2 separate regions of the Homo sapiens genome follow, and region 1 is linked to region 2. The links come from fine-mapping of genetic effects on gene expression. A gene starts in region 2. The other region holds a variant in brackets. All regions are shown on one strand. Distances are between the middles of the regions. Region 1 overlaps IPO5 (importin 5). Region 2 holds the start of IPO5 (importin 5).

The links. PIP is the estimated chance that this variant, and not a neighbour inherited with it, causes the effect.
Region 1: its variant is fine-mapped to the expression of IPO5 in whole blood (INTERVAL, PIP above 0.99).

What each region holds. Positions count from the first base shown.
Region 1 is chr13:97,973,845-97,979,368 of GRCh38, forward strand. It overlaps IPO5 (importin 5), which reads left to right. Exons shown (of 29, transcript NM_002271.6): 4 at 2,849-2,942. The coding sequence starts at 2,853. Among named protein-coding and RNA genes, the nearest start is that of IPO5, 23 kb to the left of the region's middle. RefSeq lists silencers at 2,094-2,823, 3,004-3,353. The variant G/C (reference allele first, on the strand shown) is at 2,550.
Region 2 is chr13:97,950,770-97,955,769 of GRCh38, forward strand. It overlaps IPO5 (importin 5), which reads left to right and starts at 2,906. Exons shown (of 29, transcript NM_002271.6): 1 at 2,906-2,947; 2 at 3,350-3,429.

The sequences.
Region 1 (5,524 bases), 23 kb after region 2:
GGATCGCCCGAACTCAGGAGTTTGAGACCAGCCTGGGTAACAGGAAGACCCCATCTCTACCAAAACTGGAAACATTAGCCAGGTGTGGTGGCTTGTGCCTGCAGACCAGCTAGTTGGAAGGGCTGAGGTGGGAGGATCGCTGGAGCCCAAGAAGTGGCGGCTGCAGTGAGATCACACCACTGCTCTCCACCCTGGGCAACAGAGTGAGACTCTGTCTCAAAATAATAATAATAACAATAATAATAATAGTAACAAATATCTGCAAACTTGATTGGAATTTCTATTATTTAGTAACTATTAAGCAAATATATGTAACCTACAGACTCATTGCCAATAGAAACACATATCGCAACAGGTGTTAAAAAGTAACTGGAGATCGGGCCATGCCCTAAGCAGCCTCTAAGCAATTTATCATATTTCACTGTTAACCTAGTCATTTGAATGAGTTGTTTTTGTCTGAAATTCTTTTTTTTTTTTTTTGAGACGGAGTCTTGCTCTATCACCCAGGCTGGAGTGCAATGGCACGATCTCGGCTCACTGTAACCTCCACCTCCCAGGTTCAAGTGATTCTCCTGCCTCAGCCTCCCGAGTAGCTGGGATTACAGGCGCCCACCACCACCACACCTGGCTAATTTTTGTATTTTTAGTAAAGACGGGCTTTCACCATGTTGGCCAGGCTCGTCTCGAACTCCTGACCTCAGGTGATCCGCCCACCTCGGCCCCCCAAAGTGCTGGGATTACAGGCGTGAGCCACCTTGCCCGGCCTGTAATTCTTAAAACCTTAATAACCTTGGCTGATGATGAAACCTCCTCAGAATCCAGATACCCCAACGACCCACAAAAAAAAAAAAAAATCAAAATCAAACAAAAAAAAGCTGCCCCAAAGTAATGTGCATAGTGGTTTGTCTAGAAGAAATAACGTGGCATAAGAATGAAAACTTGTCACATCTAAGAAATATAAATTCAACAAAGATAGGTCTGCAGACCTCCTGTAGAGAACCCATCATTGTCATGGCCCAAAACTTTCTAAGAGAATTTTCTCTAGGAACCAATTAGAATCCTTTAGAAAAAAATCTTGGCTGGCCATCCCAATTGCACGTGGATCCCAGGGCTCAGCCCAGATTCTAAACACAGTGGCCAAGATTTAAAATCATTCACCAAAGAGCAAATGTTTTGACTTTCAAAGAGCAGAACTGCAGCAGAATAGCCAACAGGAAATTAAATTCCCTAAGTTAAATACTATGTACTGCCAGCGGTGTAGAACTACTCTTCCATCTCACCCAGTATGAAACCTCCTCACTAGAGATGTAGTGTCCCTTTGGGGCAGAAATGAATTGTTTTTGTAGCTGGGCGCAGTGGCTCATGCCTGTAATCCTAGCACTTTGGGAGGCCGAGGCGGGGGGAGGGCGGGGGGGGCTGGTATCGCCTGAGGTCAGGAGTTCGAGACCAACTGGGCCAACTTGGTGAAACCCCGTTTCTACTAAAAATACAAAAAAGTTAGCTGGGCATGGTGGAACATGCCTGTAATCCCAGGTATTTGGGAGGCTGAGGCATGAGAATTGTTTGAACCCGGGAGGCAGAGGTTGCACTAAACCGAGATCGCGCCACTGCACTCCAGCCTAGGCGACAGAGCAAGGCTTCCACTGACACCCTTAGCCCAATGTATTGGATACAACAGGGTCTCAACAAAAGTACCCTCTGATTTGTACACTGCTCTCTGCCTTTGGCAGCCCCAGGAGTTAAAGAACATCGCGTGTATTATCTGCGCATTAGAATGCTGAAATTGAAATTACGCCTCTAGGTTCCTAGACTGAGATTGAGATAATCAGCCCTGTAAACCAGGGCTCCTTTAGGAAGAAAGGTGTCTCTCTTGACGTTCCCCAATCATTGCGAGAACAGAATCCCTAAACAAGGGATTCAAGGGAACAGTCACAGATCCTGGGGTGGGGGCATGTTTGCTACGTGTACATCCGAAGACGACCGCGGGCTGGGGACGGGCGGCCTGGCGGGACAGCCCCGGGCTGAGTAACCCCTCTTCCGGGCAAGCCCCAGGCGTGAGTCACTGGAGAGCGCGACGGGAGGAAGGGGCGCCCTGAGTCCACAGCCCTGGGGGAGGTCGGAGGGTCTGAAAGCGAGAAGTCCGTGAGTAGAAGGTACGTAGGAAGTGGGTCTAAAGGGACTGCCTTCCTGGGGGTGGGTGAAGGGCTGGATCCCAGGGAGCGAGGGACCAAAGGGGTGGGGCCTGCTCCAGCGGCCACGGGGAGGGGCCGGGGGTCGCTAGAAGGAGGCCGACCAGCCCGCGGCGCCGAAATCTCCCGCGCTCAGCAGCTGGCCCCTCCTCCCCGGCCAGGCCTCAGGCCCCTTGCCGCGGCCGGGCCCGCCGGCCGGCTCCTCCCGCTGTCCCCGCGACGCAGCCCTGGCCCCAGCCCAGGCCTCGACCTCGACCTCAACCCCGACCCCGACCCCGATCCCAGCCCTGGCCCGGCTGCGAAGCCGCCAGCCTACCCAACCGGCGTACAGCCGGCGGCCCCCGATGCGCGGCCACTGAC[G/C]GCACCGCAGGGTGCGTGGCCAATCAGCGCGGCCCCCGAGGAGGCGTCCTCGGCCCCGCCCCCCTGCGCCCAAGGCCAGTGAGGCGCCGGCGCCGGCGGCCGCGGCGGGGTGAGAGGCCGCGAGGCCCCGCCCCGTCCTCCCCTTTCCCCTTTGCCCCGCCCTTCCCGCGCGGCCCCCCGCAAGCCCCGCGCCGCCGCTGGTGCCGGTCCCCGCGCTGGGCCCGCCCCCGCCCCTCCCGCGGCCCGCGAGCGCGCCTCACGGCTCCTGTCTCCCCTCCCTCCTTCTCTCTCACGCCTAGCGCAATGGCGGCGGCCGCGGCGGAGCAGCAACAGTTCTACCTGCTCCTGGGAAACCTGCTCAGCCCCGACAATGTGGTCCGGAAACAGGCAGAGGTAACCGAGTTCGCCGCCCCAGTCTTCGCGCCCTGGCCGGCGCGCCGACCCTTTACCGACGCCAGCCGCACCGGGCCTCGGCCGGTCCGCGGCGGCCGCGCAGGCTGGGCCCGGCGGGCGGCGGCCGCGCAGCCCACGTGTGAGGCGGCCCGCGGCTCCCGGTCGTGCCCCCGGGCTTTTCCGGCCATTGCTGCCGCGGCGCCTGGCACCAGTTACCTCCCCGCCGCCGCTCGCACCCACGTGCGGCCGCTCCCGACGCGCCCCCGTCCAGGTGTGGGGTGCCGGGCGGGCCCGGGGCCCCAACTTCGCTGGCCACCCCGCTTCCCAGCTCCCCGCTTGCCCCTTTCCCGCTTTCTCCCAGTGGGAGCCCCCACTGCCCTTCCAGCCGCTGTCTCCACCCAGCCTAGCGCTGTGGGTCTCCCAAACCCTGGCTGCTACCTGACCCGTCACGCCTGCTTCTACCCCTGCTCATCTCCCACACCGTCTGTCCCTCTCTTTTTAAATATGTGCCCTGCCTTGTCCCTACTGCCTTTTTCCATTTAGTTCTTTCTCATTCTAGTTCCTAACATCAGAAGCCAGATTTCCCTACCCCCTCCCACCTCCAGTTTTGTGAAGTTGCCTTTAGGGTTTCTTTCTATGCAGTTTCCACCTTACTCTGGGCTTATAATACACTTACTCTGCTCTTCAGACAAATTTTCTTTGCTCTCTAGAGAATCGTGGGATAAATGGGATGTAGTGGGACTTCCGTTGTTTAACTGGGCCAGTACCATATGTTTAAGTCTTCAACTTCATTAAATCTAACCGTAATCTCTTTTTTTCAAACCACCTCTTGTTCCTGGCCTCCAAAATGTGGAGAGACTTTCAAGTGACAGTATTTTAAATATATCTGTAAGCTCATTTACCAAGTTCACTAGAAGACTGATGTTACATTTTCAGCGTTGAGACCACGATTCTTGTGGGATACTTCCAGGGGAGGGAGAAACTTTCCAGTTTCTTAGCTGACCGCCAAACTTGGTTATATATGGGGTTTTTGCAACCATGCGATTGTAGAGTTTCATAAGATTAAGTGAAGGATGTTCAGCCAGATATTTTTAAATAACAAAAATTAATTTTACATATAGCCAATGAAATTGACTGCAAGTCCTCTTCTGAACTCAGGCCTGAAGACTTTTCCAGGTGTCTTTGAAACGACGGTGGTAATCGTTGTTTTGAATAGATGGTGGATATGCTGGTTACACTTAGGGGTTTTATATTAAGTGAAGTAAACACACCCAAAATTCGGTTCTATGTGAAAAAGCATTTTCTACTATTCACTTCATTAAGTTTTTATTTATTATACATGTAATACATGTTCAGGGTAAAAATTCAAACAGTGAATCGTTTCTTATCCCGTTTCCCAAAGGTGACCGCTTGTGTCGTGAATCTTCGCTGAAAATTTAACATACACATTCATTTTTTACTTAATGGGCTTATAATACTATTTACACTATTTTGCAACTTGAATTTTTCACTCTATATTTCACATTGCCTCATAAGTGAGGTTTTGGTCAGCTATAGATTATACATCATATGGATAGATATTTATATAAGCAACCCTCTATGAAATGGATATTGCGGTTTCCAGTGACCTGCTCTTTTAAAAATAGTACTATGCGCAGGAGTACATGTATACCTATCTTTGCATACTTTGCCAGGTTTGCTTGTAGAATACTGAAAAGTAGCATTTGTTCCTAGAAGTGATATGCATGTATTGCACCAGTTTGCCTTGGGGATATGATGATGCTTTAAAAAAAAAAATTAATGCTTTCTGGTAACTCTTGAGATAATTTTTCGCCAAAATAACTTTTTAATCCCAGCATGAAAATAATAGAAATTTTCATGTGTTACAAAGCAGAACAGCATTGTAATTAGTAAGCTAGTTTAATTCTCTCTGTTCCCTCCAGTTGCTTAAGTCTCTATTGTCAAGCCTAGTGGGGAATCTCTCTTCTATTGAACTAAATACCAGTGTCTGGTTTAGCTTGAATTCCAATTGGTGCCTGTTGTAAATCTTTTATCACTTACATCACTTTGGGGATAGTTATCAGCATTCAGCACATTTTCTCATAAAGAACAATTGGAAATAAGTACTGTTATTCTCTTAGTCTCTTTATTCCTAGTGAAAACATTCAGATACTAGGTTTTTACTTTCTTTGTATATCCTGAGAATGTATTAATATGTAAACTAAGTACTGTGATACAGAATTTTCTAATTTGACCTCCAAAAAAGTAAATGTTAAGAGAAGCTCTCTGGTGCCATAGAATGCCCCTTTCTTTTTTGCCTAATGAAATAAGCGTTTTATAAGAGATCAAATGAAATAAAATTAGCATTAAGTCTGATACAGCAAATATAGAAATATTTTCTATGAACTGAAAAATTGGCCAGGGCTCAGTAAATATCTTTGTAATTTACTCATTCAAAATAAAAATACTTAGTCGACACATAAATACCAAACTGTTGACTAAGGTGACTTTTGTATTCAAATATGGTTATATATTTGGTTGAAATCATTGAAGAGACGTCAAAACTCTAAAAAGTTAAAACT
Region 2 (5,000 bases):
GGTAGGAGATATTTGAACCATGGGGGCAGTTTCCCTCATACTGTTCTTGTGGTAGTGAATAAGCCTCACGAGATCTGACGATTTTATAAGAGGTTTCTCCTTTCACTTGGTTCTCATTCTCTCTTGCCTGCCACCATGTAAGATGTATCTTTTGCTTTCCACCATGACTATGAGGCCTCCCCAGCCACATGGAACTGTGAGTCCATTAAACCTCTTTTTCTTTATAAATTACCCAGTCTCAGGTATGTCTTTTTTTTTTTCTTTTTTTTTTTTGAGACCAAGTCTTGCTCTGTCACCCAGGCTGGAGTACAGTGGCACAATCTCGGCTCACTGCAACCTCCACCTCCTGGGTTCAGTGATTCTCCTGCCTCAGCCTCCCAAGTAGCTGGGACTACAGGCACCCACGACCATGCCCAGCTAATTTTTCTATTTTTAGTAGAGACAGGGTTTTGCCATGTTGGCCAGGGTGGTCTCGAACTCCTGACCTCAGCCTCCCAAAGTGCTAGGATTAGAGGCATGAGCCACTGTGCCCAGCCACGGTCTTTATCAGCAGCATGAAAACAGACTAATACACCAAGCAACTGGTCAATGTCATAGGCACTGGAGAAACTTCTCGGATTTGTTCTTTTAAAATGTTCTTCAGGAAGGGCACAATGGCTCACCCCTGTAATCCCAGCACTTTGGGAGGCCAAGGTGCTCCCAGCTCACTTGAGGCCAGGAGTTCAAGATCAGCCTAGGCAACACAGTGAGACCCTCCCCCAACGTCTACAAACATTTTTTTAGAACATTAACCAAGTATGGTGGGGCATGCAGTGAGCCATGATTGCATCACTGGACTCCAGGGTGGGTAACAGTGCAAGACTGTCTCTAAAAAAAGAACTAAAAAATAAACAAATACGTAACTAAATAAAATGTTCTTCATACATTTTGCAGTAACCTTGTAACCATTCAATCGCTGATTCTGAATCTATGTAAATTCTGGTATCAGACCCTTGGTAAGATGCTTGAGCAAAATGCCATGAAGACACCTGCCCACAAGCCAAAATGTTAGAAGTCAGGTGCAGTAGCGAGCTCCTGCAGTCCCAACCACTTGGGAGGCTGAGGCAGGAGGATCTCTTGAGCCCATAGTTCGAGACCAGCCTGGGTAACATAATGAGACCCCTGTCTCAAAAACAAAAAAAGAACCAGTGACATAGGATGAGGACGAAGAAGCAAGGAATAGTGCTGAAGAACTTTCAGGATATGCGGGGTGACACTAGAAAGTGCTTAGACATCACACGTTACCAAGAAAAAAATGTGACCTATACAAAGGAGTCTGCCCATGTCCTATGAAACAATTTAAAAATCAAAAATAGGCCGGGTGCGTTGGCTCATGCCTGTAATCCCAGCACTTTGGGAGGCCAAGGTGGGCAGATTACGAAGTCAGGAGATCGAGACCATCCTGGCTAACATGGTGAAACCCCGTCTCTACTAAAAATATAAAAATTAGCCGAGCATGGTGGCGCGTGCCTGTAATCCCAGCTACTTGGGAGGCTGAGGCAGAAGAATCGCTTGAACCAGAGAGGCAGAGGTTGCAGTGAGCTGAGATCACACCAGCCTGGGCAACAGAGAGAGACTCTGTATCAAAAAAAAAAGAAATAAATAATTACAAAAATGGAGTTTGGCTTTAATTAATGATCTGAATTAATAAAAACAACAAAATGCTAGGCCAGCGCAGGGGATCATGCCTGTAATCCCAGCACTTTGAGAGGCCGAGGCAGATGGATCACTTGAGGTCAGGAGTTCAAGACCAGCCTGGCCAACGTGGTGAAACCCCATCTGTACTAAAATACAAAAATTATTCGGGCATGGTGGTGGGCACCTGTAATCCCAGCTACTTGGGAGGCTGAGGCAGGAGAATTTCTTGAACCCGGGAGGTGGAGGTTGCAGTGAGCCGAGATCACGCCACTGCACTCCAGCCTGGGCAACAGAGTGAGAATCTGTCTCAAAAAAAAAAGAAAAGCTAAATGTACAAAGCTAGGGCATTGAGATCCATGAGAATACAGGGCAAAATTGATGTTAATCTGTCATATAAAAATTTAATTACATCCCATAAATATCTGCAATTTTTTATTGTTTATTTTTTGAGACAAGGTCTCACTCTGTTGCCCAGGCTGGAGTGCAGTGGTGCAATCACAGCTCACTGCAGCTTCAACCTCCCCCGGCTCAGATGATCCTCCCACTTCAGCTTCCTGAGCAGCTGGGACTACAGGTGTGCACTGCCACACGCATCTAATATTTGCATTTTTCATAGAGATGGGGTTTTGCCATGTTGCCAAGACTGGTCTTGAACTCCTGAGCTCAAATGATCCTCCCACCTCGGCCTCCCAAAGTGCTGGAATTACAGGCATGAGCCACCCCGCCCAGCCAATATTTATAATTATTACATGTCAACTAAAATAAAAGAAAAAGTAATTTAATCACAAACCCAGTTGACATAAACGTATGTAATATGGAATTTCCTGTTGTTTCCATACAAATTTATCTTTGTCTATTTGAGAGATCAATTTCTCTTTTCAGTATTGAGTAGTGAATAGAATCAAAATCTGTGGGTAAAGAAGCTACTCAGACAGTTTCAAAACTGAATTTGATGACACATTTGTACCCAATCTGAGTGGCCCCCAGCAACATGGGTTTTGAGTTCTCAAAGGCCAATAGATAGCTCCCTTTCCTTTCCACAGCTTTGGGAGCTTGGGCTACCCTGTAACGTCTAAATGCCTGTGCAGTGTGGGCCTGTGAAGCTGGCAGGGTGGGCAGTGTAAATGCCCACTAGCAGGAGCCAGCTGACCTCCTGCGTGTCACAATAGCAGCCAGGTGTCTCCACGGTGACGTCTCTGAGCCAGGAGGTCAGAACTGTGGGATTGATGACCTCCCACAACTGGAGCAGCCGGGAACAGCTCTGACCACAGTAAGTCATCCCAAAACCTCACATTCAGATGAAACCATTTAAGAATTTCATCTGCACTGAGGAACAATTTAGCGTGATACTGGAGGGAAAGAGTTTCCCTGTGAGATCCAGGAGGTCCCTTTAGCTCGTCTCCTGACGTCACCACAGTCATACCCAAGAGGAAGGAAACGTCAGAGACAATGATTTGGAGAACATTCTACACAAAAACCAAGTATGAAACAATGACGATTTCATGATGGCTCATTGTTCTTTGGTATTGTGCCTTACGTGAGCTGGGGACTAACTCTGTATCCTTAAGGAGGCATCACTTGATTAGAGTTGCCCAAAAGAATGTGGGTTATTATCCTAAAGGTCTGTGTTGCCATCCTGAAACAGTCAGAAATCAGTTTTTATTTCACTTAGGTGGTTCCGGGGAGAAGCCTTTCCAGGACCCATGTGTAGGCACAACTGTTTTCCCTGATCAGGATACTTGCGGCACTCAAGTGAGTCTAGAATTATCAGATTTTGTTCTGTCTCTCTTCACTGTGAATTCTATTCTTTATTTCCTTTAAAACAAAAAGCTCCTGCTATTTTCTCCTATAATTATGATATCTGTTTCTTGATCATTTTACCTTCTATTCACCAATTAATTGAAATCCAACCCATCAGGATTATCTACCCTGCTTTCCTATAGGGAGAATAAAAAGTGCTTAGAAGCAGTATGATTTTCACTGCCTTTAATTTCTCAAATCCCAAGATGTTCCATTTAAAATCTTTAGAGTATCTATTTTGTCTTCTGTACATTATGGTTGTATTCCCTCAGAGGCCGAGTATATTTTATCTTAGTTTTCAGAGATCACTAAAGTCAAGTAAATGAAGGAAAACAGAATTCATTTTCATTATGGGAAAACAAAATCAATCCCTAAGTAGTCAAAAGATTACTTACTTAAGGAACCACCTGGTTAACTTCTTCTCCTAGAACTTAATCCCCTAACTAGGGGTAAAAAAGGCTCATTGTCATCTTATAAAGTATTAGATACCAGGGACTTGTCAAATGCTAATGCCTTTATTATAGAATGTTTAATTTAGACCTTCCTAAACAGTTTTGCTTTCTTCCGTCATTTGTCTGTGATGGAACCTCAAAGACACTAACTAGTATGCGAGACAGATTTGTGTTGGAACATTGTGTTAGCTTTCCAGTAGAGTTAAAACTCTGGAATGCAATTATAAACCTCCAAATGAAAAATACCGGCCGGGCACAGTGGCTCACACCTATAATCCCAGCACTTTGGGAGGCTGAGGTGGGAGGATCACTTGGGCCTAGGAGTTTAAGGTCAGCCTAGGCAACATAGTGAGACCCTGTCTCTACAAAATATAGAAAAAAGTAGCCAGTTATGGCAGAATGCATCTGTAATTCCAGGGACTCAGGAGGCTGAGGTGAGAGGATTCCTTGAGCTGGGGAGGTCAAGACTGCAGTGAGCCATGACTGTGCCACTGCACTCCAGCCTGGGTGACAGAGTGGGACCCTATCACGAAAAAAAAAAAAGAAAAATACCTAAGTGGCCAAATACCTTATAAAGTTCATGCATGCTACTCTACAGGAAATATCCTCAGCTGTCTTCTCTGTGCTGAGTTCATATACTCTTGTGCCTAGTTCATACATGCTTGGTCATCTGCCTTCCAAAGCACACAGCAAACCAGATGATGAGAGCAGCTGACAAGTGGAGACAGTTGTCATTTTATGTTGGCAGCTACAATAAATGACACTGTCTGATGGAGAAAATGAGCGGGGAAAACACTTCCAAAACACAGGCAGAAATATAAGAGTTGAAATCCCAGAGTTCCAGAACAATTTCACCTCAGGGCAAGCAAGCCTAAGTGGCCTGTGTATCCACCACTCTACCACAACCCAGTGACATAACCGACTTGATGGTCCTCAGACGCCGGAGCTGGGAGGATCCCCTAGGGTGCTGCCCAACTCGCCCCAATTTACAGATGAGGAAATGGAGGCCTCAGGAAGCATTGACAGCCCAGTTCAGGATCACAGCTAGTTAAGGGGGAAGCTGCAACTACA